4 linked regions of the Homo sapiens genome follow. The protein of the gene in region 4 interacts with the protein of the main gene of each other region in a pairwise test. Each region holds a gene or a part of one and is shown on either strand. Other genes may lie near its edges.

Region 1 (7,023 bases), on a different chromosome or scaffold from region 4:
ATCTCTCTTTGCAGATGACATGATTATATAATTAGAAAACCCCATTGTCTCAGCCCAAAATCTCCTTAAGCTGATAAGCAACTTTGGCAAAGTCTCAGGATATAAAATCAGTGTGCAAAAATCACAAGTATTTCTATAAACCAATAATAGCCAAATCATGAGTGAACTCCCAGTCACAATTGCTACAAAGAGAATAAAATACATAGGAATACAGCTTACAAGAGCTGTGAAGGACCTCCTCAAGGAGAACTACAAACCACTGTTCGAGGAAATAAGAGAGGACACAAGCAAATGGAAAAACATTCCGTGCTCATGGATAACAAGAATCAATATCATGAAAATGGCCGTACTGCCCAAAGTAATTTATACATTCAATACTATCCCCATCAAGCTACCATTGACTTTCTTAACAGAACTAGAAAAAAACTACTTTAAATTTCATTTGGAACCAAAACAGAGCCCACATAGCCAAGACCATCCTAAGCAAAAAGAACAAAGCTGGAGACATTACACTACCTGACTTCAAACTATAGTACAAGGCTACATAACCAAAATAGTATGGTACTGGTATCAAAATAGATATGTAGACCAATGGTACAGAACAGAGGCCTCAGAAATAACACCACACATCTACAACCATCTGATCTTTGACAGACCTGACAAAAACAAGCAATGGGGAAAGGATTCCCTATTTAATAAATGGTGTTAGGAAAACTGGCTAGCCATATGCAGAAAACTGAAACTGGACCCCTTCCTTACACCTTTTACAAAAATTAACTCAAGATGGATTAAAGACTTAAATGTAAGACCTAAAACCATAAAAACCCTAGAAGAAAACCTAGGCAATACCATTCAGGACATAGGCATGGGCAAATATTTCATGACTAAAACACCAAAAGCAATGGTAACAAAAGCCACAATTCACAAATGGGATCTAATTAAACTAAACAGTTTCTATACAGCAAAAAAAAACTATCATCAGAGTGAACAGGCAACCTACAGAACGGGAGAAAATTTTTGCAATCTATCCATCTGAAAGTGCTAATATCAAGATGCTGCAAGGAACTTAAAGTCACAAGAAAAAAACAACCCCATCAAAAAGTGGGCGAAGGATATGAACAGATACTTTTCAAAAGAAGACATATATGTGACCAACAAACATATGAATAAAAGCTCATCATCACTGGTCATTAGAGAAATGAAAATCAAAACCACAGTAAGATACCATATCACACCAGTTAGAATGGCGATTATTAAAAAGTCAGTAAACAACATGCTGGAGAGGATGTTGAGAAATAGGAATGCTTTTATACTGTTGATGGGAGTGTAAATTAGCTCAAGTATTGTGGAAGACAGTGTGGCGATTCCTCAAGGATCTAGAACTGGAAATACCATTTGACCCAGCAATTCCATTACTGGGTATATACCCAAAGAATTATAAATCATTCTACTATAAAGACACATGCACACGTATGTTTTTTGCAGCACTATTCACAGTAGCAAAGACTTGGAACCAACCCAAATGCCCATCAATGTTTTACTGAATAAACAAATTGTGGCACATATATACCATGCAATAACTATGCAGCCATAAAAAAGAATGAGTTCATATCCTTTGGAGGGACATGAATGAAGCTGGAAACAGTCATTCTCAGCAAAGTAACTCAGGAACAGAAAGCCAAACACTGCATGTCCTCCCTCATAAGTGGGAGTTAAACAATGAGAACATATGGGCACAGGGAGGGGAATATTACACAAGGGGGCCTGTTGCGGGTGGGGGGCAAGGGGATGGATAGCATTGGGAGAAATACCTAATGTAGATGACGGGTTGATGGGTGCAGCAAACCATCATGGCACATGTATACCTATGTAACAAATCTGCACGTTCTGCACATGTATCCCAGAACTTAAAGTATCATAATAAAAAATTCATTTAAGTGATCTTTACCCAGACCTTCTCTTGTTTCTGCTTTTTTCACCTATTTCTATAATTCATTGATTTTTTTTTTTGTTCATTGTTTTACTTTTAAAATACAAATACTTCTGCCTTTGGTAATCTGTTATAAGCTACCCTCATCTAACAATTTTCTCCATTTTTCAATTTTTGCTAATACATTTTCGGAGTATTCTAATACACATTTCAGATTTTTATCTACCTAGATAAAACACCTCAATATCTGAAGGCCTACATCCTGCAAATGTAGCATGGGATAAATTTTAGTATATATCATGTCTTTTTTTTTTTTTTTTTTTTTTTGAGGTGGCCTTGCTCTATTGCCCAAGCTGGAGTGCAGTGGCACAGTCATAGCTCACTGCAGCCTCCACCTCCTGGGCTTAAGCAATCCTCTTACCTCCATCTCCCAAATAGCTGGGACCACAGGTGTGTGCCACCATGCCTGGCTAATTTTTATTTTTTGTAGAGACAGGGTCTCAGAAGTTATCCAGGCTGGTCTCAGATTCCTGAGTTCAAGCGATGCACCCACCTTGGCCTCCCAAAGTGCTGGGATTACAGGCATAAACCACCACATCCAGCCCATGTCTGTATTAAGTTGATTATATACAAAGCAGTTTAATGGGTCAATTAAGAGCCCAACCTTCGCATCAGCCTGTCTGGGTACAAAGAGCTTGTTAGCTATAATTCTGGACAAGTAACCAATCTTTCATTTTCCCCATACATAAACTGGGGAAAAAAATTCTACCCGTCTCATTTGGTTATTAATAAACATTAATTAACAGATAAGCATTAATAAGAATTATTAATTATAAATAAGTATTAATAAGAATTAACATGTCTAAAAGGCTTATAATAGAACCTAGAACGTAGTAAGTACCATATAATTATTGGCTATTAGTATTTCAACGGTTAAAATAACAAAAGTATCTTAGAATAAAGTGTGGAGAAGTTTTAAGTACATTTTGTCTTTTAAAGGTCCAGACTACATAAAGGATTATTTACCCAAAATTCATCAGCACACCTCCTATGTAGGAGAACAGCATCTGGCGTTAGAAAAAACTGGAGATCTCAGATATTTATGGAGGCCTGCCTCAAATAGAAGCTTGCCAGCAAAATATAAACATGAGTACGTCAGTGAAATTGGTTGGAGAATACCACAGTATAATTTTATCAACAAATCAAGACTGGGGAGTGGCTTTCATATCAAGGTATTGCTCTTAAATTTATGCTTTTCATAGTATACTGTTTTCTAACTTGAATTCTTTATGAATTTGCTTCCAAAGGAAATGTCGGGTGCTTGATTTCTCATTGAGACATAATGAGGTTTGAGTTTTGCAGAAAGACACATGTGTGAATAAATGCATGTGCTCCACTCCTGGAGCCCTTTAATACATCAAGGGAAGGGTATGAGGAAAACAAAGCCATGGATAATCCAAAAGCGTTTGTGTTTGTCTTTGGAATGTATTCTGATTCACATTCAGGCTGAGGCACTTGCACACACTCTTCCCCCATCCTAGCACTGCTTCATGCGTGGACGATGGAAAGAAAGAAGCCTGTGCTGGGCATCCCATAATCCACAAACCTAACACGTGCATCTCAGATCTTTAAGATTCACTGTACTGATAATGCCTTCGTATCAAGTATTAATAATTCAGGGTATGTTGTCAGAGGGTTTTAGAAACCTTGTCTTATTTCCTTTTGGTGATGTAGACATAGGCATGAGATCCTGGTGTCTCCCCTGAAACAGAAGAGTGCACAAGGGATTTTAGAAGTAAAATCTGAGAATTTGGATATTTTTTTCCAGACAGGCCTGTGCATTGTCTGAAAATTAAATGTATCAATCATGCAATAACTGAATTTCCTCAAATTCTTAAGTTTCATCTGGTAAAGGTTAACAAAAGGAAAAACCATTATTTATTTATTTAGAGACAGGGTCTCACTCTGCCGCCCAGGCTGGAGTGCAGTGGCACGATCTTGACTCGCTGTAACCTCGGCCTCCTGGGTTCAAGCGATTCTCCTGCCTCAGCCTCCCAAGTAGCTGGGACTACAGGCACATGCCATCAGGCCCGGCTAATTTTTGTATTTTTAGTAGAGATGGGGTTTCGCCATGCTGGCCAGGCTGGTCTTGAACTCCTGACCTCAGGTAATCCACCTGCGTCGGCCTCCCAAAGTGCTGGGGTTATAGGCGTGAGCCACCACACCCGGCCAGAAAAACCTTTTTCTGGCCCAAACTATGGCAGTCCAGGAGGGTGGATGGGAGCACAGTCTTTGAGGTTACACTCTGATTTAGGTCTAGCTCTGTGACCTTGGGCAAATCAGTTCACCTCTCTGCATCTTTGTTTGCGCCTCTTCTACATGGCAGTATTCAGAGGCCCACTTCACAGGATCATCTAAATTTCTATCCTAGTTCTGCCACCTACTAGCTGTGTATGGCCTTGGTTAAGTTCATTTGCCTCTGTGCGTCAGTGTCTTCATTATGAAATCTTAGTTCTAGGATATTTTTTCTAGGCAGGCCTTTGCATTGTCTTTGCTCAGGTAACAGGCTGTTGTAAACAGTGCATAAGTTAATATTAGTAAAGCACTAGAAGCAGTAACTAGCATGTATCAAGCCCTATATGCGTTTCATATTGTTATGTTGTGAGGACTATATATGAGAACCCAAGGAATGCACTGAGCGCGATCCTGGCACCAGGCTGACATCCAGATTTTAGCTATTAGTACTGTTGTGGTTGTATTTCATGTAACTCATTAAATTTAGTATGATATTATATTTAATGTATTGTAATATGTTTAAATGCCAGGGCCAAGAAAAGGCACTGATGATAAGCAACGTCTCTTACAGCATATTCCAAAGAAGACCAGTTTCTGAGTGACAAGCTGAGTATAATGAATGCTTAGGTTCTTAAACTGTGTCCTATTCCACTTAGGCAATAAAAATGAAAATCCAAGATTTGATCAAATATCAAACTAACCACCAGCAAGAAAAGTCCAGCCCCAAAGCAAGGCGGCTGGGTTGAATAAAGTCCAGAACTTTTGTTGTCTTGGTGTTTCTCCTTGGGTGATGATGTCCTGCTCTCGGACACAGCCCTCAATCTGTCAGACCATCTTGAGTGTGTATAGCCTCTCTCCCTCTTTATCTTTAACTTAACCTATTTTTCTGCTCAAATGAAGTGCAATCAAGCATTCCTTGGTCTTCAAAGCAAGCTGGGAATCCAAAAGAGATGATAGCTGTGAGTTAGCCTTCCAGGAATGTATTTATTCTGTATCTCTAGTTAGTATTTCATGGATTGCTTTTAATCACTGCACTGCTGAGTAACGGGGTCCTCTTTGTCTCTGAGATTGTGAACCAATCTCACAGTGAACCAATCACACAGTGATTTTCTTCCCCAGCTGTGGCACGCTCAGAAACTGCTTGGAATATACTATAAGAAATGTTGCTTCTCATCTGTGCACTTTCTTGGCCCCAGTATTTTAACAGTAATTGTTTTCAAGGGTCTAGCTGTCTCAGATAACAATCTTGAACAATACCTTAAAGCTCCTTGGACTTAGAGCTTTAGAATAGGAAAAAAAAAAGATTCACTGAGAATGACCACACATACCAGCACTGAAGCATCTATAATTTCCTTAACAGTTAAGATCTAGGTTTTGTCACTGGGTCTACTCATCTCTCCCTCTACATCTAAGGCATACTGCTCTCTCTTTCCATCTAAGGCAGATCAAAATCTTTTTTTTTTGTTTTTCTTTTTTGAGACAAGGTCTCACTGTGTCCCCCAGGCTGGAGTACAGTGGCATGCTCATAGCTCACTGCAGCCTCCATCTCCTGGGCTCAAGCAATCCTCCTACCTCGGCCTTCTGAGTAGCTGAGACTACAGGCACATGCCACCACACCTAGATAATTTAAAAAAATTTTTTAGTAGAGACAAGGTCTATGTTGCCCAGGCTGGTCTCAAACTCCTGAGCTCAAGTGATCCTCCCACCTCGGCCTCCCAATGTGCTGGGATTACAGGTGTGAGCCACCGTGCCCAGCTCACAGTGTCATTTTTGGAGTGTAGACTCAGACTTTTGATTCCTTATCAACCCTGTGCTTCAGGCAGCTACTTCTAAAAAATCAGACTTGGTGCGTGAATTGACACTTGAGCCGATACATACACATACACTCCATGCATTCAAACATGCTCCTAATTACAAAGACTATACAAGAGTGGTGGCATTAACCCAGGGCCGCCCTCACAAGGGAACTGGTAAACTTCTCAGTGTGGTGTCACTTTGAGAAATGTCTCAATCCACTTCCTGTTCGTTCTCCAGTTTCTTATCTGTCTATAGACCCTTTCCATATCCCTTGCTCTTCCTTGTCCCATAATAATCCAAATCAAAATGGTCACTTCTTGTTTTAGTCTAACTGCAGAGACTCCTCAGTGTCTCACATGGCAATTGCTCAGAGCTTGGATTTTAAGCAAAACTTTCATCTCCTGGATTTTTATAGCTCTAACAGCTGTTCTGCCTAATTTACTGCTCCAGGTTTATATAAGACTGGCGGTTAAGGATGCTCAGGCACCTCCAATAGAGTCTTGGTAAAATGCCTGGAGCAGCTGCCTCCTACCTGGGAATGGTTTCTCCTATTTGGGGCACTAGGAGGGGTTCTGCAGATCATCTGGCTTTTTGCAGGAAGATAATAACTTCCATGCTGAGTGACACCTGAAAATCTTCCCCCACGTTGCGGAGGTCAGTAAAAATCACAAGATCGAGTTCCTCTTCCAGATTTTTTAATGTTTAGCTATTTCCTACTGACTCTTACATGGGTTACAATGCAATAATAATAAATGTATGTATAAACAAGGACAGACCATTACTTTCATCATCTCGGATTTAAGAGCAGCACATTCTTTAAAAAAAAATGGATTTGGTCTTTATCAAACTATATATGTTGTTTCTGCAAGAATATATGGAGACAATTGAAACAGTTTCTTTAGTTTCAATCCCGTGCTAAACTAAGGAACTTTTCTAACTGCTGCTTAGCTGGTTGTATCTCCTCTCCACTGGCCTTTCTTTAACCCCAACCTCAATGGGGA
Region 2 (7,723 bases), on a different chromosome or scaffold from region 4:
CAGAACACCTGGGATCCAAAAGACACGGGACAGCCTGTCGTGGATGGGCTCCTCTTTAGTGGGAGATTTCTGTTAGCTCTGGTTGGAGCAGAGAGTAAGGCCACACAGCAACTGTGAATCTTTCTTCCTGAGGGATTCTTTCAGGGTCTCTGTGCCGTGATATTAGTTTCTGGGAGTGAACTCTTGAGTTTCCAGCCAGGCCTGACAGCATGGGTTGCCCAGCCCACCTGTCCTGGGCTCAGCCTGTAACGCATACCTCGAGAAAAGGCTTTCTGGCTGGGCGTGGTGGCTTACGCCTGTAATCCCAGCACTTTGGAAGGTCGGGGCGGGCGGATCACCTAAAGTCAGGAGTTCGAGACCAGCCTGGCCAACATGGCGAAACCCCGTCTCTACTGAAAATACAAAAATTAGCTGGGCATGGTGGCGGGCACCTGTAATCCCAGCTACTGGGGAGGCTGAGGCAGGAGAATCCCTTGAACCTGGAAGACGGAGGCTACCATGAGCCAAGATCATGCCGCTATACTCCAGCCTGGGTGACAGTGTGAGACTCCATCTCAGAAAAAAAAAAAAAAGAAAAAAAAGAAAGGCTTTCGGCAGACTATGGCCAGATGGGGTGTGGGTAGAGGCATATGTGTGTCTGTGCCTTAGGGGAAAGGGGGTGCCCTCAGGCCTCTGATAGTGAAAGGGTGCCCTCACTATCAGACTAAAAGGTCTCAGCCATTAACCTACTGCATCTAAAAGGCAGGAGGGGCAGCAGGTTCAAGACCTGGAGGGACATTGAGTTCAAGCCACCTGCAACAGGCTCGCTGTCCCACAGCCTTTGAGACATGATCCCATTTGTGGTCTCTCTGGGTGATTTCACCATGTGTGTGTGTGGGCTTCTCATTTAGCCACTCGGCAAATGTGCCCCTGGACATTTATGGTGGCCAGGCCCTATTTGTATGGGGCAGTGGAACATGGGGCAGCAAGAACCACAGCCCAGACCATACCCAGCCCTTGGGAGGCCTCAGGGGCAGGAAGAGAGGAACTCAGGGAAGACAGGACAAGGGCCCACAGAACTTGGGCATGAAATGCAAAGATGGAATGAATGGAGAGTAAGGTTGGCCAGGTGTCCTGGGGGATTCCCCCTGTTGTGGGAGTCAGAAGGCAGCGAAAGGTCACCTTCCCCAGGGAAGGGAGCTTCACAGGAGAGGTAACACTTGAACAGGGCCTTGAACCGTGGGCAGTATTTGGACACAGAGTTTGGGATGGAAGATGCATTCTTAGGAGAGAAATAATGTGAGCAAAAGCCTGGTACCCAGAGAATGTATAATTAGTTATTCAAATCCACTCAACCCTTGGTTCCTGTTGAAGATGATGGCAGGTCCTGGGCCACAGGGTGCTGGTGGACATAGCAGAGTTTGTGTTCCTCAAACCCATGCAGGAACAAAGCTGGCCATTGTGAGTGGCCTTCCAGCAAGTGCCCATAGTAACCACTCGGAATGTGCTAGCTGTTTACTCTTCACCAGGGTTTCTAGGCAGCCTTTCTGGTGGCCAGGACTAGGCTAAGCATCCTCCTTCTGTGTCCTTCCACACATCCTGATGCTAGAAACACCTCTCTCCTCCACCAGTGGGTGCTCCCAAGAGTCAGGGCTCGGTTCGTTGTTGAATCTGCTTCTCCCCAGCAGCTGGTTCCCTGCTTGGCTCAAAGGAGGATTCAGCAAGGGTTTGTTGTGTGACTGTCAGATACAAGGAAAATGTAGCCAGTCTGTCTACCCTTTCCTTTCCAAGAAGCAGGGCCAAGTTGTCTCCAAATAACCAAAAGATTACCAAATCCCCACCCTGCAAGCCAGCATGCCTTATCCCTTGCATAGACAAGGACAGATATATCTATACTACAGAAATCCAAAAGTCAGACAGAGTGGGTGGCATGTTCTATTCAGAGTATGAGAGAGACTAAGCTCATGACCTTCCACACCAATTCCAGCCTTGGCTCCATCCTGGCTTGGGCAGAGTGATTGTATGAACAGGCACAGGGCCCCTGAGGTGGGCAAGTGTGTCTGGGCTCAGGGAGCCACAGAGGTCTCTGACTGAAGCTGAGCCTGTGTGTCCATGTTCCAACTTCCCAGGACTTCTTCCATGGAGAAGCCCCTCACCGTCCTGCGAGTGAGCCTGTACCATCCCACGCTGGGCCCATCTGCCTTTGCCAATGTCCCACCACGGCTGCAGCATGATACCAGCCCTCTGCTTCTCGGACGGGGGCAGGACGCCCACCTCCAGCTGCAGCTCCCTCGCCTCTCCCGCCGTCACCTGTCCCTGGAGCCCTACCTGGAGAAAGGCAGTGCCCTGCTGGCCTTCTGCCTCAAGGCCCTGAGCCGCAAGGGCTGTGTGTGGGTCAATGGGCTGACGCTGAGGTACCTGGAGCAGGTCCCCCTGAGCACCGTCAACAGGGTCTCCTTCTCAGGCATCCAGATGCTGGTTCGCGTAGAAGAAGGCACATCCCTGGAGGCTTTTGTCTGCTATTTCCATGTCAGCCCTTCACCCCTGATTTACAGACCTGAGGCTGAGGAAACTGACGAATGGGAAGGCATCTCCCAGGGGCAGCCTCCCCCTGGTTCAGGGTAGCAGATCCAGGTTGCCTGGGGTTTCTCCACGGCCCTTCCCAGACTTGGGACAGCCCTCTCCAGCCAAGACCTGGAGGAGGAACAGAAATACAGCTCCAGAGGGAACCCCCAGACAGTGCACTCTGCTAGCCCTGCCACTAGAGCAAGCCTTTGCTAGATGAAACAGGATTTGAAATACTTGAGCTGCATCATGCAAGGTTGACAAGCAAAACCCACTGGCTGCCTTGCTCATAATGAACCAATTCTGCAAACACCGAACAAACAGCCCAGGGGGGAGAAGCACCCTCTGTGGCCAGAGCTATGCAATGTAATGGGAACATCATATACTTTTAGAGGCCCTGAGGGGTTCTGGGGAGCCTCTCTCAGCATTTCCACACATTTCTCCCTGTTGTCTGACTAGGAGTTACTTTATGTGGTTCATTTTGTGTGCTGCTTAAGAGCAGGAGTTTGAGGTTGCACCAGGAATGCGTGGACACATGTAACAATTACATTTGTGGTAGCTTGGGGTTACCTTCAGCTTTCAAATACCCACAGGCACGCGGGGCTTAGGAAAGCCTGAGTGTAATAAACTGCAAGTATTTCATTAAGCTGGCATACCCAATAGGATTCCCTGATCCCCAGATGGGCCACATGCACGCCACGCTGTCATGCAGACGTGGGGGTGGGAAATATAGACGAGGTGTAAGAGGAAATTGGAAAGGTGGGACTCACATTTCTGGAAAGGATGCAGGCAGGGCTCAGGGTTTCCTGAGGATGGGAGCTGGGAGCTGGGCCTGCCTGGAAATTCATTGTCCCCCTTATCATCCTCATCCTCACACTCCGCATTCTCTGTCACTTCTGGATCAAGGCCTTGGTTGACTTGAGGGCAAGGTCTTTAGGGAATGAGGGGATGGGGTGGGGGTTTGTGTAAGAACTCAGCCCAGCAGTTATTTCGCTCAGGGTGAGTCACACACCAATGGGGGTGGGGGAATTCCTTCCAAATAAGGGACTCGTTAGGAGCCAGGTACGCCAAGGGCAGGAGGATTTTCTCGGTGAACAAGGGCAGCAGCTATTTGCCACGCCATGCTGAGAAGGGGAGAGTGTGGTTTAGAAACAACGTTCACTAGTGTGATGCAGGGAGGGATCTACATGGTCACCATGATCCCAGACCCCACTCTCCAGGGAATCTGAGGCACCAAGGGCACAGCCCTGTTCCCCTGGCTGACTCGAATCTCTGGGTCTGTAGCTGTCAACAATTTCTGTTTTCTGCCCAAAAGGATGATCGTTTTGCACCCAGGGCAAGCTACAAGGAGGTCCAACTTCACTCACAGGCCCTGAGCATCTTCTCCATCAGGAAAACAGAGGTGGGCAAGACCCAGGCTTGCCCTGGTGTGGGAAGCTTCCTCTCCAATAGGGATGAAGCAAAAACACTCAGATCACAGCCACAAGGCAGGGAGAGCAGGGCTGCTAGGAAGGGGCTCTCTGATGCTGTGAATGACCCCTTGGGACCCCCAAAGCAGTTCCTCATTCATTCAGCAAACCTTCACCAAGCACCCACCTTGTGCCAGATCTGTGCAAAGCCACGGAACTGAACCAGAAGTGAATAAGGCAAACTCCCTCAGGGAGTTTACCTTGCACTCAGGAAAGTCAAGCATTCAGGAGTGCATTACTTATTTGATCACTACTATGATTAGTGCTATAGTCATTGTATTTTTCTCTCTCCTCCAGCTGGGCTCACATTCTCTTGTTAAGTGGCCTTGCCTGTTGAGTGCCTACCATGTGCTTAGCACTCTGCTAGGTGCTGTGTGTATTAACTGCACTTAACAGATAAGGAAACTGAGACTTGGAAAGGTTACATATCTTGCCCAACATCACACCATCAGTAGCTATGCGATTTGGGCAAGTGATTTAGTCTGCTCTTGCCTCTATTTCTCCCGCTGGAAAATGGGTAAGATAATAGTACTACCTGCTAGAGTTACGAGGGTCTTAGAAGGTGACACCTGTAAAGCATTCAATCAGTGCCCAGCACACACTTAATAAGGGTTAGCTACTATCATGAGACCTGAGAGAGGAGGGCTCACCATCCACACGGAGCTAAGGAAGACTCACACCCCAGTAAGCTGGCTCCAGAACCCAAGGGCTTACCTGTGCTCTGTGATTCCCCAACTAGGGATTTAGTTGTAGCCACGGACCTGGTAGGCAACAGGGAGGGGATTTTAATCTGCTCCTTGCATCAGAAGGTCCAATAGGCAGGGTTAGTATAATGGGAGATGCCCTGGTAGGGCTGGCAAGGAGAAGAAGCCACATGTATTTTGGTCTGATGAAAAGCAGCAGTGATCTGTCACTGACCAAAATGGTCCCCCAACTATGCATTACGGAGCAGCAACCCACATACAGAACTCGAGAAGCCACGGCCTGGAGACTGTACCTGGACACCAAAGACTGGAGAGAGGAGCTGGTGGGGAAACCCCAGAGTTCCCAGGGTGCCACTCCCCAGCTCCACCAGAGAACTTTGGGAATGAGCTGCTGCCCCTGAGTGCCCCTCTCCAGGGCCTCAGTGAGGGTCTCTACCCTCCAGGGAGGAACAAAACCTTGCCAGCTGGGGTCCTGCGAGAGGGGGCAGTTCAATTCCTCCACAGGGGACTCTGCAACTCCAATCTTTCGAGTGAAGCATCTGCGAGGCCCTCAGGGACCCAGGATGAACTGCATAGCAGCAGAAGGAAGACAGGCCAGACCAGGCGGGAGGGAGCCCGGAAACATCTGGTTTGTAGTTTCAGACTCTACCCGTTCACAGTTCACACAGTCTCACCGGGAAACTCACACCTTGCCCTGTACCAAGTTTTTAAGGCAGTTAAGCTCTGCCCATCCGAGACTTCATTTTTCTTGAGTAGAAAATCACTGAAATCATCAGATCCATGGCACCCACCTTCACTTTCTCCTAACAGCTGGAACCGTCAGGCTGGCTTCAGGGCCTGGTCTTCGCACTTGATATCACTATCCCTCACCTGCTCAGACAGCCAGAGCAGGCGGGTGAGTTCCTCCCAACAACCTCCACTGCATTCTCTCAGCTCCCACCGCAGGGCAGCCCACGTGCCTGAGTGAACATGTGTGCGTGTGCACACACGCAAGTATGCACAGACATACACTAAACACGAACATACAGTGCACATGAACGCTGCTCCCAGCTAGGGCCCTCTGGTCAGACTGCTGCCTGGGTTAGAATTCTTGTCCCCACCCCCACTTACTATAGTTCTGTGATCCTGGACAAGTAACTGAATCTCTCCGTGCCACAGTTTCTTCTTGTAGAAAACGGGAAAGTTCACAGTACTTACCTCCTTAGAGTCATTGTGAAGGTCAGTTTGAGGCATCACAAATTTAAGGCACCCAGACATAAGGGTCAACAGGGTTAGCTATCACTGTCCAGTTTGGTGGGAGGAACTGAATGCATGTAGGCACATGGACCCAGTCTACACTCAGGCACAAAAGGAGCTACATTAGTTACATTCAGGCATACCCCAGAGCACTACAATTCTCTGAGACATTGTCTGGAAATCTAGAAATCATCTCCTTGCCCTTTAAGGTATTTTAACCCTCGCATTCCTCTGCTTTTCCAAGAATGTGAATCTTGCCAAGCTGTCCGTGAGAGACACGGGCTCCCCTCGAGGGAGACTTGCAAATGCTCCATAAACAGCCACAGTGTGGGGCTCTGCCATGAGGAAGTCACAGCAGACACGCTAGACAGCATAGTCCTGGATGCAACCTGGAGGAAGGGAGGCCCATGGTGGAGCACTCACTCCGTGCCTGTCTGCCCGGTGAGACCTCAAGTTCCTTGCAGACAAAGGCCATGGGTTGTTGGCTCTTGTGTTCCCGGTGGCCTTTCCAGAGCTGAACAGAGGACAGATGCACAGACGGGGGGGCTCTGGTGGTCAAGGCAGCAGTCCCCTTGGATACTAAAGTCTGAGCCAGGCCCCTCAGGCCCGGCATGGGCAGTGCGAGGCCCATAGTGGTGGGAAGCCAGTTGGCCAGCTGGGGTGAGAAGGCCGCGAAGCCATGGGCAGACAGGAAGTGGAGGTGAATGTCTCTGCCTCCTGTAGGCCTCAGCAGGGACAGCACAGACCCTCTGGCTGGGGCAGCGCAGACCCTCTAGCTGGGGCAGAACAAGGCTGGTGCTTCCTTCTAGTCCTTGAGACTTTGTAGCTCTAACTCAAGCAGAACCCTGGGGTTTTGGGATTCTGTGTGGTGACTGCTGAGGAAGGTTTATGGATTTGACAGGGTGCATGTCACAGAGAGACAGTTCTCAGTCAGCACTTCCTGTCCCCTGCAGAGGCTCATAGGGGACAGCCCCTGCCAAGGAGACCCTGGAGGGGCTCTGAGGATAGCAATCAGAGGTTGGGCTGGCTGGACTGAGCCCAGGCCTGTTGCCCACCAAGTCTCCATAGGTTCTAGTCTGACCCCTCTCTCCACCCCTGGGCTATGCAGGCCAGCCCGTGCAGACCACCCCCGACGCGTCCACTTGCAACACCCGCCTCACTGTGCCAACACTCCATCCACACAGGAAAGGACTGAGAACGTGATGCTTAACCCAAAGGAGTGAGTTTCATAGGATGGGTGGCTTTAACAGTTTCACAGCAGGACACTGAGGGAATATTTCCCTATCCCTTCAAATGGACGGTCACTACAGAAACGTGTAGAGCAAGACTTTGTCAAGGGGCTGTTTCCAGGTCTCCCGGTGTCTAAATAGCAGAGCTGGAATGGGAACTGAGAACCGATTCTTTCCACAACCGCCCACTGAGCAGCAAGGCTGCAGCCAGCAAAGAGGTGCGGAGGCAAGCAAGCTCCATGTGGTGGGGACAGCGCATTGCGACCTCCACCACCCCTGCAGTGGGCTGCCAGCTGAGCCACCTGTCTTCCACTGTATCTACTGTACGAACTTCTCCAGCTCTGCTCTGTTTTCTCTTCCTCAGCATCCACCCCGTGACACGTAGTGGTGGCTGATGTCGCCACAGTACCATGAGGTTAACAGGTCCTCCCTCCAGCTTCCCTCATGGTGGCAGCCTAACCTGCATTGCAGCCGTTCACCGGACACCGCACCAGACCCTCAAAACCCATCCAAGACTGTGGGAGGAGTAAACAACCCAGCC
Region 3 (7,668 bases), on a different chromosome or scaffold from region 4:
AGCGGCAGGGTAGGGATTCAGCCCCACCTCCTGCTGGACTAACAAGGGGGTTGATCCTTGGGGCTGGCTCCAGACTCCTCAGCCCTCCCCCAGAGCATTCAGAGCCCCATACCCAGTACTCCTGGGAGGCTCTCCCCTAGCCAGTTAGGAGAATGTAGTATTTATGTAAATGTCTGTTCATGAGTGCAGTGTGCCCTCAGAGTCCACTTTCCAGCATTCCTGGCATAGCCCCCTCCACCCTGCCGGGCTCCAGAGGAGGGAGGGAGAGGGAGGCCCCGCCCCCAGCCCCCTCTCCTCCCACTCCTCCCTGCTGGGCAATGAGGAAAACAGGAGTGAGGGAAGAGCTGTGATGTGGCTGGTTGGGGGGGCTCCCGCATCCCAGAAGGGCTGACCTCAGCCTGGGAGGAATGTGCAGGAGGGGAGGGCAGGGGTGGGGCAGGCGGGGGTAGGGCCACAGCCAAAGGCCCAGGGTTCTTGGTAGCCCCTCCCTCAGCACCTCCATCTCAGTTCTGACAGGGCCCTCAGAAGGGAAGGGGAACAGGCAAGGAGGGGAGGAGCTAATCTTTCAAAAAAGGTGGGCCAGGGTTCCCTGGGAATGTGGAGACCAGGCTGGGGTGAGGACATGCCTGCAGACGCTTCCCCAGGAGATGCCCCTGGGGCAGGGCCTTAGAGTGTCTGGGAAGTTAGGCCTCAGGTGATGATCCTATGGCCGCCCACGCCTGCCCCCACTGTGCCTAAGTCCTCTGGGCAGCATGACCTGGTACCTACGTGGCCAGAACAAGGAAGAGTTGTGACGTTGGAGCCACAAGCCCTGATGACTAAAGCAGGTGTGAGTGGGGCGCCCAAGATCCCATCCAGTCCAGGCTGCACTGGGAGGGTTGCCACAACCTTCCTCAGATGGGTGTCCCACCCCAACCACACCACCCGGAGTCCAGGCAGGGGCAAAGGGGCAGGCCCAGCTGGTGGCCAGGGGTGGGGAGGCAGGTGCTGAGATTTGGCACAACAATCCAGGTTTTTCCAGAAGGAAAAGCCAAGGCCGTGGTAGGCCATGCCACTGACAGGCAGCCCCAGAGCAAGGACCCAGGCAGGTCTCTGCCCATGGAAGCTCCCTCAAAAGAGAGAGGTCCAGGGTAGGAGTACAGGCAGGAAAAGGGACCCCAGCTGCCTTGCCTGGTTTGCCCCATTCTGTTGAGACTCAGGCTCAGGCTGCCTGATTCCAGAATCCTCGAGGAGTTCCAGCCCCCAGTGTGACCCACAGGCAGTGACCTTGCTCCTGGAGTGCTGACCTCCATGGGGGCCCCTACCCATGGCCTGGCACACTGGACCTGGGGCTGAGGAACAGAAAGGGGACCATGTGGAATCAGGGACAACTTGACCTCCCATCCCTGGAGACCTCCATTCCTACTCAAGGGAGGGTACACATCTAGAGGACAGAGGACAGGGCACAGCACTCAATGGGGACAGAGACAGTCTAGTCCTTTTGGCTGGGGGTTGACTCCCAGGCTATTGGAAAGATAATGGCGGTGGCGGGGGGGTTTCTGATACCGTTTCCCAGAGTGAACACAGGTGGAGGAAGGTGCGGGGTGATGAAACAGAGACAGGGCCCCTGGGCCTGGAAAAACATAAGGCAGTGAGGGCCTATGGGGGCACAGTGGGAGTGGATGGGAGCCTCTGAGGCACTTGCTGATCCTGGCTGCTTGGGTGGAAAGCTGTAAACAGCCAAAGAATGTTGTCTGCTTGCATGGAGCCAGGAGAGCCTGCCCAGGTCCTCTAAGGCTAGAGGCAGCTACTCCTGGAGTAGGAAAAGGCCACATCCAGGAAGCCCACGAGCCCAGGCAGGGATCTGTCCTTCCACTTGCCCTCCTGAAGGGCCCTGCGGCTCCCACTGGCCCCTGTTATTTACCTGCCAGCTGGCCAGGCCAGGCCAGGTATACCAGGTCCTCAGGCTCAGGAAGGAGGGGCATAGCCCCACTTCCACTTCCAGGGGACTTGGAGATGTGCCCCCCACCTCTGTCCTTGCTTGGCTGGAGGCATCCAGGGCTGGGCAACAGAACTGCAACACTTGAAATGCCCACACTGCCCCATCAGCCTTGGGAGGTGGTAGGAAAATGCCTTTTGCGGGGATGGAAGGATCAAAGCCCATTCTCAAGCCCTGGTATATTCACTCAGGTGGACTTCAGGGCTCCACTCTGCCACTGTCAACATACAGTCCCTCCAGAGAAGTACCCCTCATGTTACAAATGGGGCACGTTCACCAGACTCAGCTTCAGGACAAGACCCCAGGTCATTCCCAACTGAGGCTCCGAGGTGCAGGAGCTCCGTCCTGTCTGTAAAACTCCCTCAGTTTTCGGCTCTGGGTTTGGTGGGGGTTGTTCCTCCCACCTCCAACCTAGAAAGAGAAGCCAGAGGAAGGGAGGTCACATGGTCTGCCCCCCAACCTCTCAGCAGAGATGCAAAGCTACCTGTCCAGGATGGCGGACTCCAGATGGGCCCCGCCCTGTGGTGCAGAAGTGAGATTTGCTGCTCCTCCTGCGTCTGCCCCTCTCCTGCCCTCCTCTCCCTCCCCTATCTGGCTGTCATGGTAGAAGCCACTGCTGGCCAGGCCACTGAAGTACTAAGTGGCCCAAGTGTTGAGGAAGGATGGGGACTGGGTCCTGAGGGCCCATCCGACCTCCAGTTGAGAGCCCCTCCCCTGACCTCCAGCTGCCCGGCCACCCCAGCCGGTCCCTGGGAACTGAGGTGGCAGCTGAGCTCCCCATTATCTTTCCCCACAGCTCCCCACCTGTGGAGGGAGAGGTTGAGATATTGGAGTCCACGGGTGGTGCCCCCACTCAGTGATTCCCTTTGCCTGCTGAGCCCCTGGAGCTGGGGTTTCTTCCTCCCTTGCCTTGGCTGGCCACCTGGCTTCTGGGACCGCCACCTGGGGCACCCTTCTGCTTTAAGGCCCAATATGGGAGGGGTCGTCCCTACCAGCCCCTCCCTTGTGCCCATTCCACTCCCGCCTGGCTGCCGTCTCCAGCTGGTCCCGGCTGCCTGCCCGGTCACCCGATCCGCCCTCTAAACTTTACGGCACGGCGGGCGGTGCGTGGGGCGGTGGCTGGCCTGGTGGGGGCGGGGGCTGCTTCTTAAAGGAGCCGTCAGAGGGTCCCCAGCGGCCCCAGGGTGGGAAGGGGCCAGAGTGGAGAGATGCTGCTGCGGAAGTCCTCGGTGGAGTGTGAGAAGGCAGCCAGTGTTGGCCTGGAAGACCTCTAGAACCTGAGAAGAGGCAGCGGCAAGTGTCAGCGGAGGGAAGGAGGGAGGTGGGGGTCCTGGCCTGGGATGGGGCCAGGAGCTGGGCAGGAGTGTGGGTGGAGGGGCCTGGAACCTGCCTCAGCAGCTGCTCCACTTGCTTAATCCCACCTGGAACCTTGTCCCACTCCCTGGGCTCCTGTGTCCAGCACCTGCCCAGCTGACCCCTGGGAAGGAGGGTGGGCATAGCAGCCAGGTCTTTGCCCCAGCTGAGGGCCAGGGGGAGGTGTCTGGCTCCTAGAGTGAAGGGGCTCAAAGATGGGGAAGAACTCAAGGGGTGAGAGAAGTGAAGGGAGAGGCTCAGAGAGGCTGTGGAGGCGTTGAGAGGGAAGGCCAGCTCAGCGAGGCCAGGAGGCTGGGGTGCAAATGAAGGGCTGCCTCACCTTGCCCCTCTTTGATTCCTCAGGGGTGTGGAGAGAGAGCCCTCAAGCTCAAATGCAGAGGCTGCTTCAGCTGGGTTGGGAGCAGTCCCCAAGTCAGAGGCTGAGGCTTCTGCCCAGGTCTTGGGTCTCCTGGGTAGCACTTCTCCCTCTGAGGAATGGAGTGATTGATGCTGCAGTTGGATTTGCTCACTTGCATGCCCAGAGACATGTCTATTCTTATGGGTGCACACGTTTGCACATGCACAAATGTGCAACACATCTGTGTGCAAAATATGCACATATCACACATATGTACTGCATGGATTGCACAGTGCCACATGTGTGTGCACACCAACCCATATCCACACATGTGCAATATGACACACTATATATTTGCACATAGATGTGCACACACATGCACATACACACTACACACATGCGCACATCACAAGGGGACACTCGGAAACACATTCACAGGCACCCACACCCTTGGCTCCAGCCTCAAAAGTGTCTCTGTGTTTTTCTGCGGGACTGTGGGGACACTGCCACCTCCAGAGGCCTGACCCCCTCCTGTCACTCTCACTCTTTTGACTGGCTTGTTTTGCTCATTGCACTTGGCACCCTCTGCATCCATCTGATTCCTTGTTGGCACTCTGTCCCCTTTCACATGGGGACCTTGTCTATGTCTCCCAGTATCCCTCCTCCCAGGTCTAGGCTGGCATGAAGTGGGTGGCACATTGTGAATTAATGTCTGTGAGTGTGTATACAAGAGAGGAGATTACTGGGAAGGGTGACGTGGTGAGGCGGGCTTGCCAGTGCAGGGTGACCCTGAGGGTGTGCCCAGTGGCGTGGGTGTGTCTGTGATTGTGGCCAGGCGGGGCACCCTCGGAGGGGAGGGTTCGGAAGTGGAATGCGACCCCCCAGCCTCTTTCCCCTAGGGGCTGTAATCTGATCCCTGGGGACTCCCCCCCTAGCCTCCCGCCCTCGCCCTCACTGCTGACTCCTCTTCCAGATCCTGGGGCAGAGTCCAGGGCAGCTCAAGGCTCCTCCACACACACACCCGCTGAACCCTGAGCACCCTGAGCTGCTGAGATGGGGCGGGCCGGGGCTGCCGCCGTGATCCCGGGCCTGGCCCTGCTCTGGGCAGTGGGGCTGGGGAGTGCCGCCCCCAGCCCCCCACGCCTTCGGCTCTCCTTCCAAGGTAGGTGCACCTGGCAGGCGGGAGGGCCCAGCTTGAGGTGGGCAGGAAAGGGTCCCCGTATGGCCAGGGGGCTCTGTGTTGGCTGTTGCCCCATGTGCGTGCCTGTCACCAGACTCTGGTAGGATTAGTGGGCACTCTCAGGCCACCTCCAGTTAACCCTGTCCGGGCCTCAGCCCCCAGCCTCTGCCCACATTCTCTTCGTGCTTTCTCAGGAAGACCCCTCCTGTCCCCACAGCAACAGACCTTGTCTCTGTTCCGTTCAGTACCCCCAACAAGGCGATACTCCTTCAGCAGAGCAACAGGGAAGTCAGAGCCCCCTTCTCATGCCTCCTGTATAGGAGGGTGGCCCCTGGGCAGTGGCAGTGAATAGGCAGTTCTGCTGAGCTCAGGCTGGTGGTGGAGTGGCAGGAAAGGAACTCTCAGCCTGACTTTTGGGAGTTGGGGTTCTGGCCATCCCTGCATGCCAGTCTCCCCCAGGACTCTGGTGTCCATAAGCCTTGCCTCCCAGTGCGCCCGCCTGGAGACACCACCTGTCTGAGCATGCCCAAGTTCAACCTGCCTTCCTCTTCCTGGGGGGATGTACCACCTACCCTGGCAGCTCCACACGTGCACCTGGGTGGGCTTGGGTTTGCGTGTGTAAACTCACACACATGTAAACTCACATGTGTACAGGCCAGGTCCTAATGGCAACCTTGGCCGATAGAGTCACCACCAGGCAGGACCTGGGGGAGGCTTCCAGCATGGCTGGCGAGTCATCAGCAGTGTCCTGCCCTGCAGAGCTCCAGGCCTGGCATGGTCTCCAGACTTTCAGCCTGGAGCGAACCTGCTGCTACCAGGCCTTGCTGGTGGATGAGGAGCGTGGACGCCTGTTTGTGGGTGCCGAGAACCATGTGGCCTCCCTCAACCTGGACAACATCAGCAAGCGGGCCAAGAAGGTGCCAGGGACTCCCAACCCCAGCACTCCCCAGGGAAGGAGCCCTGGGACCCCACTCCAGCCTGGAGAGACCCAGAGGAATGGCTCCCTGAGGTAGAGAATATCCCAAGTTCCTGACCTGTGTCCCCTCTCCCCCAACCTCCCGATAGCTGGCCTGGCCGGCCCCTGTGGAATGGCGAGAGGAGTGCAACTGGGCAGGGAAGGACATTGGTGTGAGTGCCAGCTGCCCGGGCCGGGAGTGGGGAGGGTCAGCCCCTCACCCCAGAGACAGGGCAGGGCTAAAACAGAGGCCTGCCTGTTCTGGCTGGGATGAGGGCAGGGAGGTCGAGGTGGCTGAGGTCTGGGGGTGGTGAGTCAGGGTGGGGGCTCGTGTAATTCTTCTGGGGTGCCTCTGAGTCATGGGAGGCTTTGCAGGCCTGTGCTTCCCCAGACACCCACCCTCGTGAGGCCTGGGCTGGTCAGCAAGGGCCCCCAGGTCCCTGTAGCCCATGTTAGTACTTGCCTGGGCTGATGCCGAAGAGAGGGAGGGGTGAGGATGCCACTGGTGAGCTGGGACCTCTTAAGGCTACGTCCCTGGGGGAAGCCTCACACCTCCAACCCTACTAGACTGAGTGCATGAACTTCGTGAAGTTGCTGCATGCCTACAACCGCACCCATTTGCTGGCCTGTGGCACGGGAGCCTTCCACCCAACCTGTGCCTTTGTGGAAGTGGGCCACCGGGCAGAGGTAAGGCCGGATCTAGGCAGGGAGGGAGGTCAGGAGGGTAAGAAGGGCCTGGTAGTCACAACTTGCCACACCTCCCAGGAGCCCGTCCTCCGGCTGGACCCAGGAAGGATAGAGGATGGCAAGGGGAAGAGTCCTTATGACCCCAGGCATCGGGCTGCCTCCGTGCTGGTGGGTGAGTCCAAGGGCTAAGGCCCCAAGAGAACCCCTTAGAAACTCTAGAACCTCACAAAGTCCCAAGACCCCCAAGAGCTCCAGGGAATCCCCCATAACCTCACTCACTCCCAGAGCTCCCCAGGCCCTCCTGCCCCAAGAGCCCTCCATTTGCCTGAGTGGCCCTTGCTCTGTCTGCAGGGGAGGAGCTATACTCAGGGGTGGCAGCAGACCTCATGGGACGAGACTTTACCATCTTTCGCAGCCTAGGGCAACGTCCAAGTCTCCGAACAGAGCCACACGACTCCCGCTGGCTCAATGGTGAGAGGCTGGTGGGGTTGGTGGGTAGAGGTCGTCACCCTCCCACAGGGCAGGTGCCAAGCAAGGCCCATAAAGTAAGTGAGCAGTGGGTGTGGCCAGGTCTTACCAAATACCCTCCTTAATCAGGCACTGGCGTCACAGAGACAGACAAGACAGGTATGACCGTGACCTCTTTGAGTTCACAGATCACATACATGATAAGATCAAGTCCAATGGCCTTGAGGCCAGAGAGAGACAAGGGAGGAAGGGAAAAGGAGACTGGGTGGCTGGAGGGGGTTGGGTAAAGGAAGCCGCTGTGCTGAGGGGAGTATGAGCTAATTCCCAAGCACAAGACAGCTAGCCAGCAAAATTTAGGGATGAGCATTCCAGGCAGAGGGAGCATTCCAGGCAGAGGGAGCAACTAGTGCAAAGGCCTGGATGCAAGAACAAGCAAAGGAATAGACTTGCAGAGCTAGCAATGAAAAGGGGGCCTGGACTGTCAGGGGCCAGAGTCATTTATTCTAAGAGTCATGGGGGCTGGGCACAATGGCTTGCACCTGTAATCCCAGCACTTTGGGAGGCTGAGGCAGACAGATTGCTTGAAGACAGGAGTTTCATACCAGCCTGGGCTACAAAGCAAGACAAAAAATAAAATAAAATTAGCTGGGGGCAGTGGCATGCACACACCTGTAGTCCTGGCTAGTCAG
Region 4 (7,023 bases):
TTTTTAATCTTGATCCATCAGAGTCACAGGGTGACTTTGTCTGATGTTGGTGTTCTGTTAACAAGAGAACACCACAGCCTAGCTGTGAGTGCCAGGCCAACTCCTAACAACACCAGGGTGTAGTTGATTGTGTCAGGCTGGGACTGTTTTCTCTTTCTCAAACATGTTCATGAGTTTAATATTCCCCTTAATAATTAAGTAATAGGTTTGATAATAATATAAGCATTTTAAGTAATATATTTAATATTTAAAATCTCTATAGTGGAGTAGATTCTGTGTTTCCTAGTTCTGTTGCCTTAAAAAGCTCTTAGCTCTAATTATAATTTTTATAATATTAAAAGTAAAGCCTAGAATACTATATTTTGCCTAAATGACTCTTCTTTTTGAAAAATATATGTTTTTGGTCTGCATCAAAAGCAGACTGCATTATACCCAGTGCAAAAAGTGTAAAAGAATTTTATTTTACAGCAAACATCAAACCAGATGCAAACAGATTCATTATCTCCATCCCCTAATCCTGTGTCACCTGTGCCTTTGAATAACCCAACAAGTGCCCCAAGATATGGAACAGTGATCCCTAATCGCATCTTTGTAGGAGGAATTGATTTTAAGGTACCTATTTATGCATGCAGTAAAGTGTATTTTTTCATTAGAAGTCTTTATTTCTCAGAAATTATTTCTTTGTGCAACTATAAAATAACATATTTGCATAATGATTAACAGATTTTGAATTATCTTATTATAAAGAATCTTTTCAACCAGCATGTAGGTTACATAAAGCATTAAAAACTGTTCAATGTCAGATATAAAGAAATTGATCCTCACTGACTTGCTGTGGGCTGCTAGCCACATAGTGACAGAGTGAGACTAGAAGCCTAGTTTTCTGTCTCATAGCTCCATACTCTTCCATACCAGAACTAATTATACTTTCTTGCCTAATATTCCAATAGCCAAAATAATTGATTATTATAATTTTCAAAAGAGACTCTATTTTTTAAAAACTTACTTTTATGAAATACTATTTCTTTACCCCAACTCTTATCTCAGATTCCTGAGCAACCTCCTAGGCATCTATTCTTTGCAAAGCACTTTCTATGTTAGAATTTAGGATTTGATCACCAAAAAAGTCCTGTGTCCTTGTCAGAATAAAGCATCTTAAAAGTAGTATATTTAAGCAGAAAAAAAAATAACTATTCGGTACTAGGCTTAGTACCTGGGTGCCAAAATAATCTATACAACAAACCCCAATGATGAGTTTATAACAAATCTGCACGTGTACCCCGAACTTAAAATAAAAGTTTTTTAAAAACTAATATATTTATATCATGTAATCAGCCATTCCACTGTTTCAAGAAAGCATAGTTCATGACATGATGTGCAGTGCCCCCCAGCCCACATAGGGGAGGTAAGAGTAAACACCTACAAGAAAGGCATGCATAGATATTTTAAGTGGAATACTCTTACTTTCAAATGGATATATAGAAGGATTTCCAAGCTTCTATTTTACATATTAGAAATTATAGGGAGAGTTATCATTTTCAACAAAAAAAAAACCTTCCTTATGCCATTAGGTGTGATATTTGACATTTATAACTATTTCCATATAACCAATCTGTTACAATTTGGGTGGAATTTCTTTTTTCCTGCACAAGAGAAATGTTACACTTAGTGTATTTGCCAAAACAATGAGTCTTAAACAAGTATATGATTGTTTCACTAAAAATAAAGTAAGAAAAATTATTTCTTATAAAATATTTATTTTTAAAAAGATTTTCTTTGTGGAAAATACTGATAGCTGGCAGAAATGTTCAATTTGGGAATTCATTTATATTACAATAGATTAGCATGTTTTTAAAAATAAGTTATCAATAAATATAAACATTTGTATGGCCAGGTTATTTTAGGTTACTGAAGCCCATCAGCTACAGCATGCACTTTGGAGACGGTTGTTATAATGCAGCCATAGCTTTAAGGTAATTGCTAGGGCTTCCTCCTGTATACTTATACCTTTTTCAAAACCACAGATAAAGGCCAGCAAGGAAATCATTTACTTTAATAGCAAGTAGTCACAGACTTTTTAACCTTTCATTTTTATAAGCAAACAGACTATCCCTCTTAATGCTTACTTTTCTTGACTGTCTCTTTGTCACTAAAGAAGTGGAGCTACAAAATTGAGGTAGTGATTATTCTACCAGAGAATAGTTGGAATTAATTTGTATTCAAATATCTAGTAACAATTCTTATTCTAGCATTGATTTCATTTTCTGTTAACTGAAATAAAAGTCATTCAGTTTTTCTTAGATTGAATCAGTATTTGTCATTATGCAGCTTAGCAGGCTTTATGTTACCAACTAAAAACCAATAGTGTATGTAAGTAGTGAGGTGGCAGTTGAACTCAAAAGGCATAGCTCTGCACTAAGGCATGTCTTTTTGCAGTGTATATAAAGAAATTTTTTTCTAGAGAAAAGTTACTCTTGTAGACAAACAGTTACAGCTAAACCAGGAAATGAAATTGCAATGAATTTAGTGTCAGTATTCTGAGAAAAGGTGATATGAGTCTATTATCAGACTATTTCAATTAAAAAAACAGACATGCCAAAACCATCTTTGTAGACACCTTGTATGCTTTAAATCTAATTATGATTCCAATTTTTATTTTATTATCAAAACAATGTCTGAATTTAGCTGAAATGTATATTGAGTACAGATAAGGAATCTAATAACTTTAAATCTTATAGTCACTCCATTGTTCTCACAGTTGAGTTCAAGCACTTTTGGAAATACATTCCTTTCCTAAAACTGACTTAGGAAAGGAGTTCCTGAGACTACTGATTAAAATAGAATGACTGGTGTAGGCCAACACAACCTAGTTCCACTGCCATGACTGTCTCTGAGCCACAAGAGCCAAAATAGTATTGTACCCTTACTATGGAAATAGCATTCCTAATCCAAATTGGCTTTTTAAAAACTGGCCAGCTAGAGAACAAGAATCATTTAAAGATTTCTTTAAATAGTGAGTTTTGTAGTTTTAAAATAATTCAGCTTACATTTTTATTGGCATATGGTAATTTAACAACATAGCTATTGCATAAAGCAAGATATTTACCTTGATTTTAATCACCTAGTGGTTTATGCACTGTTTTGATGATGAGAGGCATTTTTCATGCATCTTATCTATAACTTTTTCTGTCTCCAGAGCAAGCATGAGAATTATTCATCTTTTATCAACTAAAAATGCTTTTTAACGTTTTCTTTTTATGCCATTAGACAAACGAAAGTGATTTAAGAAAATTTTTTTCCCAGTATGGGTCTGTGAAAGAAGTGAAGATTGTAAATGACAGAGCTGGAGTATCCAAAGGGTTAGTATCACTATAGATTGTCTATGGAATTAGCAACTCTATTTTCATTGGATGACTAGGTTTTGTACGCCAGTTTACTTTGGTTCCATTTTCCAGCAGAGACCATCATGCCCTCTTCTTTCCTCCTACCTTTTGATTTCCTTGTGTGTGTGTGTGTGTGTGTGTGTGTATTTTGGAGGGAGGAGACACTGTAATATTTCTTAATTTGTTGAGAAGTTATTCTTGCATGGGTGGAGGGACCATTCAGTGGTAGGCAGCAAGCACTTAATGTAAGTAGCAGATGTACATTAGCTGAGGAATGAGAAGCAAAAGGAATCAGATTCTTTTGGAATTGTATCCCTGCTTTAGGCCATAGAGAGCTTTATTTGAAAACAGCTGACACCAAGAAATGTCTGTAGGTTGTGCCTCAGAGACCTAATTAGGGGACCAGTATGAGAAATATAATTCTAGTGAGAATGATTTTTAATTGCTATATCAATGATAATGAAAATTGAGAAGAAAGTAATAGACTGTGTCTTTAAATGTGTATAGAGCTGTTTCAGTGGAATGCTATGTGTACAAAGCCAAATTTCAGAAAGGAAAAAGATAGTTTACATAGTACACTCACTTAAGGAGTTGGACTGCAAAGTTAAAAGAAAATAGATAAGGCAGTAAAGTATTGTATTTACTTTCTTGAAAGAGAGACGAGACATACATATTTATAGGCATAAGAAAAGGGACCCATTGAGGTGGTATTGGTGAGAAACAACATTCGACAGATGGATATGCTGGAAGAGATGGGATTCTACAGAAAGGTTATTTATAAACAGATGAGATACTTCCTCAGAATGCCAAACAATATTAAGGTGAAGTGAGATTTACCTCTTTTGTTTGACTAACAGAATTTGCTATGTTTTGGTAATACCATTTTTTAATCATTGGAAAACATACATGGAAATGTAAATGTAAACTGTATTTTATGCCTTTTCCACTGGGTGGCGTGTGTGTTCTACCAAAAAAATAGCGTAAAACTAATTCCTTAACTTTTTAATGTTTGGGCAAATAGATAAAGAGAAATTCCTTTGTTTAAAAGAAGAAACTTTGTATATGATCCAGTAATTATGAATTGAAGAAAATAGTGAAGATATTTAGCATTACTCAGAAGAGTTTACTTAAGTTATCTAAATAGCAATTATGTTTTGAGAGATACATTTTTTCTTTCTTTTGTTACTTTTTTCTCTACCTATTGTGGCTTTTTGGACATGGAGCACATCATTTATGTGTATTTGTATCTTCAACATTATATGAATTGTGCTTGAAGTTAATTATGTATGAAAAACAGATGTGAAATCTGGGTTGTACATATTTTTAATTGATATTGTTTGGGAATATACTAATAATTACATTATCAGTTATATGTGCTAATAATAATAATTAAATAATACATTTACATTGTCATTCACCAATATAAGAAATTTTATTGTGTTGAAATTTTAAATTTTTTAGTTATTTTTCTACTTTGATTTCTCTTAGCCAAACTTCTATTAGTTTAAAAGGAGATTATTGCTCTGGATTGAAATTTATTGCATCCCCAATTTTTAAGCAACAGCATGAATCTCTTGTGCTTTTCTTTCCTGCATACAGCTGAGAGCTGAAGCTGTTTCAAGATCTCAGGGGTTTTTTTTCTTTTAGTTCCTGACTAAAAGTGACAGTGTTAGGCTGTGAATGATTCTTCTAAGATTCCCATGCTAGTGCAGCATAGAAACATGCCTACTCCTACAGTGGCCGATGATTTAAAAACAAAATTTTTAAACATTTTAATATAATTAATATAACATTCTAAGAAAATGATTAATTAGTAATAATTAATGCATTTATTTAGGTATGGTTTCGTCACTTTTGAAACACAAGAAGATGCACAAAAAATTTTACAAGAGGTATGATCTTTTGGTGTATTTAACTTCATTTCTGGAAATTTTGTATTTGAAACTAATCTTTTCGGGGTTCAAATACAATAATCAACTGCTTTTTAAAAAAGGTTTGCATCTTAAGATTGGCATTGGTCTCTAGGAAACTTAATCTGCAGAAGAGCAAATTCCAAAATCACTACAAGTATGGTTGTGAAACTGTAATATAATGTTTCGCTTTATTTACTTAAATTAAGAACTTGGGGATATATCTTTTGCGAAGTGTTAATAGCATTTTGAATGTTTAAAAAACACTACAAATGTGGATTCCAACAGTGAGGTTATCTGAGATGATTTCCCTCCTGTGAAAAACATTATATAAACTAAGAATATTCACAGAAAAAAAGCCTATAGCCAGCAATTCAGTGTAATAACTTTAAGTTAAGGCAAATATAACATTTAACTTTTTTAGAAAAAAAGTAGAATTTGAATTGTATGTTATTAAAATCAAATACAGTCAATTCTTGTTATTTGTGGCAGTTATGTTCTCTAACATTGCTAGGAACACTGAATTAGCAAATGCTGAACTCCTCTTTCTAGGGGAAGTACAAGGTAATGTTCCCAAGAACCTCTGGTCACAATATTGCCATCAACCTATCAATATATAACCTTGTTTTATATGGTTTTCCATTTAAAGGCATCATATATAACAGATTACTGGTTCATTAACATTGAAGCCATGGCCAATAGCACTATAATTCATGCTTGAATTAAGCACATCTAATATATATATTCTCCATAATGCCTATGACAGTCTTCTTGTGCTAGCCAGCACTTCAACAATACACATGGGGGCCATTTTAAATAGCCAAATCACCAACAAAAAGCACAAAAATGGAGAAAACATGGCACTAAATAGAAAGCTCTCTCTTAGAGTATGAGCACTGGAACAAGAAGAAAGAATATCGCCTTATTTGACCTCAACTGGGAGCATGCGCATCAGGCTACTCAAATTTTCCGCCGCTCTTCACGTGTCCACTAATAACCTCAAAATTGCCACAAATATTAATTTTAGGATTACAAGTAAATTTTAGCAAGTAGGCAAATTCACAAATACAGAATCCATGAGTAATGAGGATTGACTGTATTACAAATGGAGAAAATGGGGAATTGCGGTCAGACCCAGATCTATTTCAGTCTGAAGACGGCTCTTTCCCACTATTCCTTGCTGCTTTGAAAGAATATTATAGTCTGAATTTTTGAAATTCTTTCTAACTAGTTTTTCCTTATTGATTTTATAAATAATAGTGCTAAAATAATAAAATAATTTCTTTTTTCTTTATTTTAGGCTGAAAAACTTAATTATAAGGATAAGAAGCTGAACATTGGTCCAGCAATAAGAAAACAACAAGTAGGGATCCCTCGTATGTATTGAGAACTAATGTATTTTTAAATATTTTTGCATGGTTCTTTTTTGAAATATAAGACTTTTTATAGAACTTTATTAAAAGATCATGTTTCTTTCATCTAATAAAGTTATTTTAGCAAAGTTGGTGGAAAAACTGAATATTTTTGCCACAAAATAATATATCTCAATTTTTTTGGCTGGGAAAAAATTTATATACATAAAGATGCTTAAGTATATTCCATGTAGTTACATCATTAAAGGAAAAAAAATCTTTCGTGATGAAAATATCATTTAATATAGCAAAAGTAATTAGAAGTAATTTAATAATTTAGACTTACTAATGAGAAAAATTTTAATTAGAAACTAATTT

The links.
Region 1: the proteins of BOLL (region 4) and SPMIP2 interact in binary tests that used the Homo sapiens proteins (3 or more experiments, as listed by UniProt).
Region 2: the proteins of BOLL (region 4) and DCANP1 interact in binary tests that used the Homo sapiens proteins (3 or more experiments, as listed by UniProt).
Region 3: the proteins of BOLL (region 4) and SEMA3B interact in binary tests that used the Homo sapiens proteins (3 or more experiments, as listed by UniProt).

What each region holds. Positions count from the first base shown.
Region 1 is NC_000004.12:158,969,218-158,976,240, reverse strand, and holds part of SPMIP2 (protein SPMIP2), read left to right. Parts: intron 1-2,929; coding exon 2,930-3,162; intron 3,163-7,023.
Region 2 is NC_000005.10:135,444,335-135,452,057, reverse strand, and holds the start of DCANP1 (dendritic cell nuclear protein 1), read left to right. Parts: upstream 1-4,709; 5' UTR 4,710-4,949; coding exon 4,950-5,684; 3' UTR 5,685-7,723. Other genes in the region: TIFAB (TRAF-interacting protein with FHA domain-containing protein B), read left to right, coding at 2,119-2,604.
Region 3 is NC_000003.12:50,264,499-50,272,166, forward strand, and holds the start of SEMA3B (semaphorin-3B isoform 1 precursor), read left to right. Parts: upstream 1-4,648; 5' UTR 4,649-4,742; coding exon 4,743-4,851; intron 4,852-5,628; coding exon 5,629-5,786; intron 5,787-5,934; coding exon 5,935-5,997; intron 5,998-6,391; coding exon 6,392-6,511; intron 6,512-6,589; coding exon 6,590-6,683; intron 6,684-6,862; coding exon 6,863-6,982; intron 6,983-7,668. UniProt on the Homo sapiens protein: Inhibits axonal extension by providing local signals to specify territories inaccessible for growing axons.
Region 4 is NC_000002.12:197,775,311-197,782,333, reverse strand, and holds part of BOLL (protein boule-like), read left to right. Parts: intron 1-468; coding exon of another isoform or gene 469-483; coding exon 484-612; intron 613-3,267; coding exon 3,268-3,359; intron 3,360-5,220; coding exon 5,221-5,275; intron 5,276-6,593; coding exon 6,594-6,669; intron 6,670-7,023. UniProt on the Homo sapiens protein: Probable RNA-binding protein, which may be required during spermatogenesis. May act by binding to the 3'-UTR of mRNAs and regulating their translation.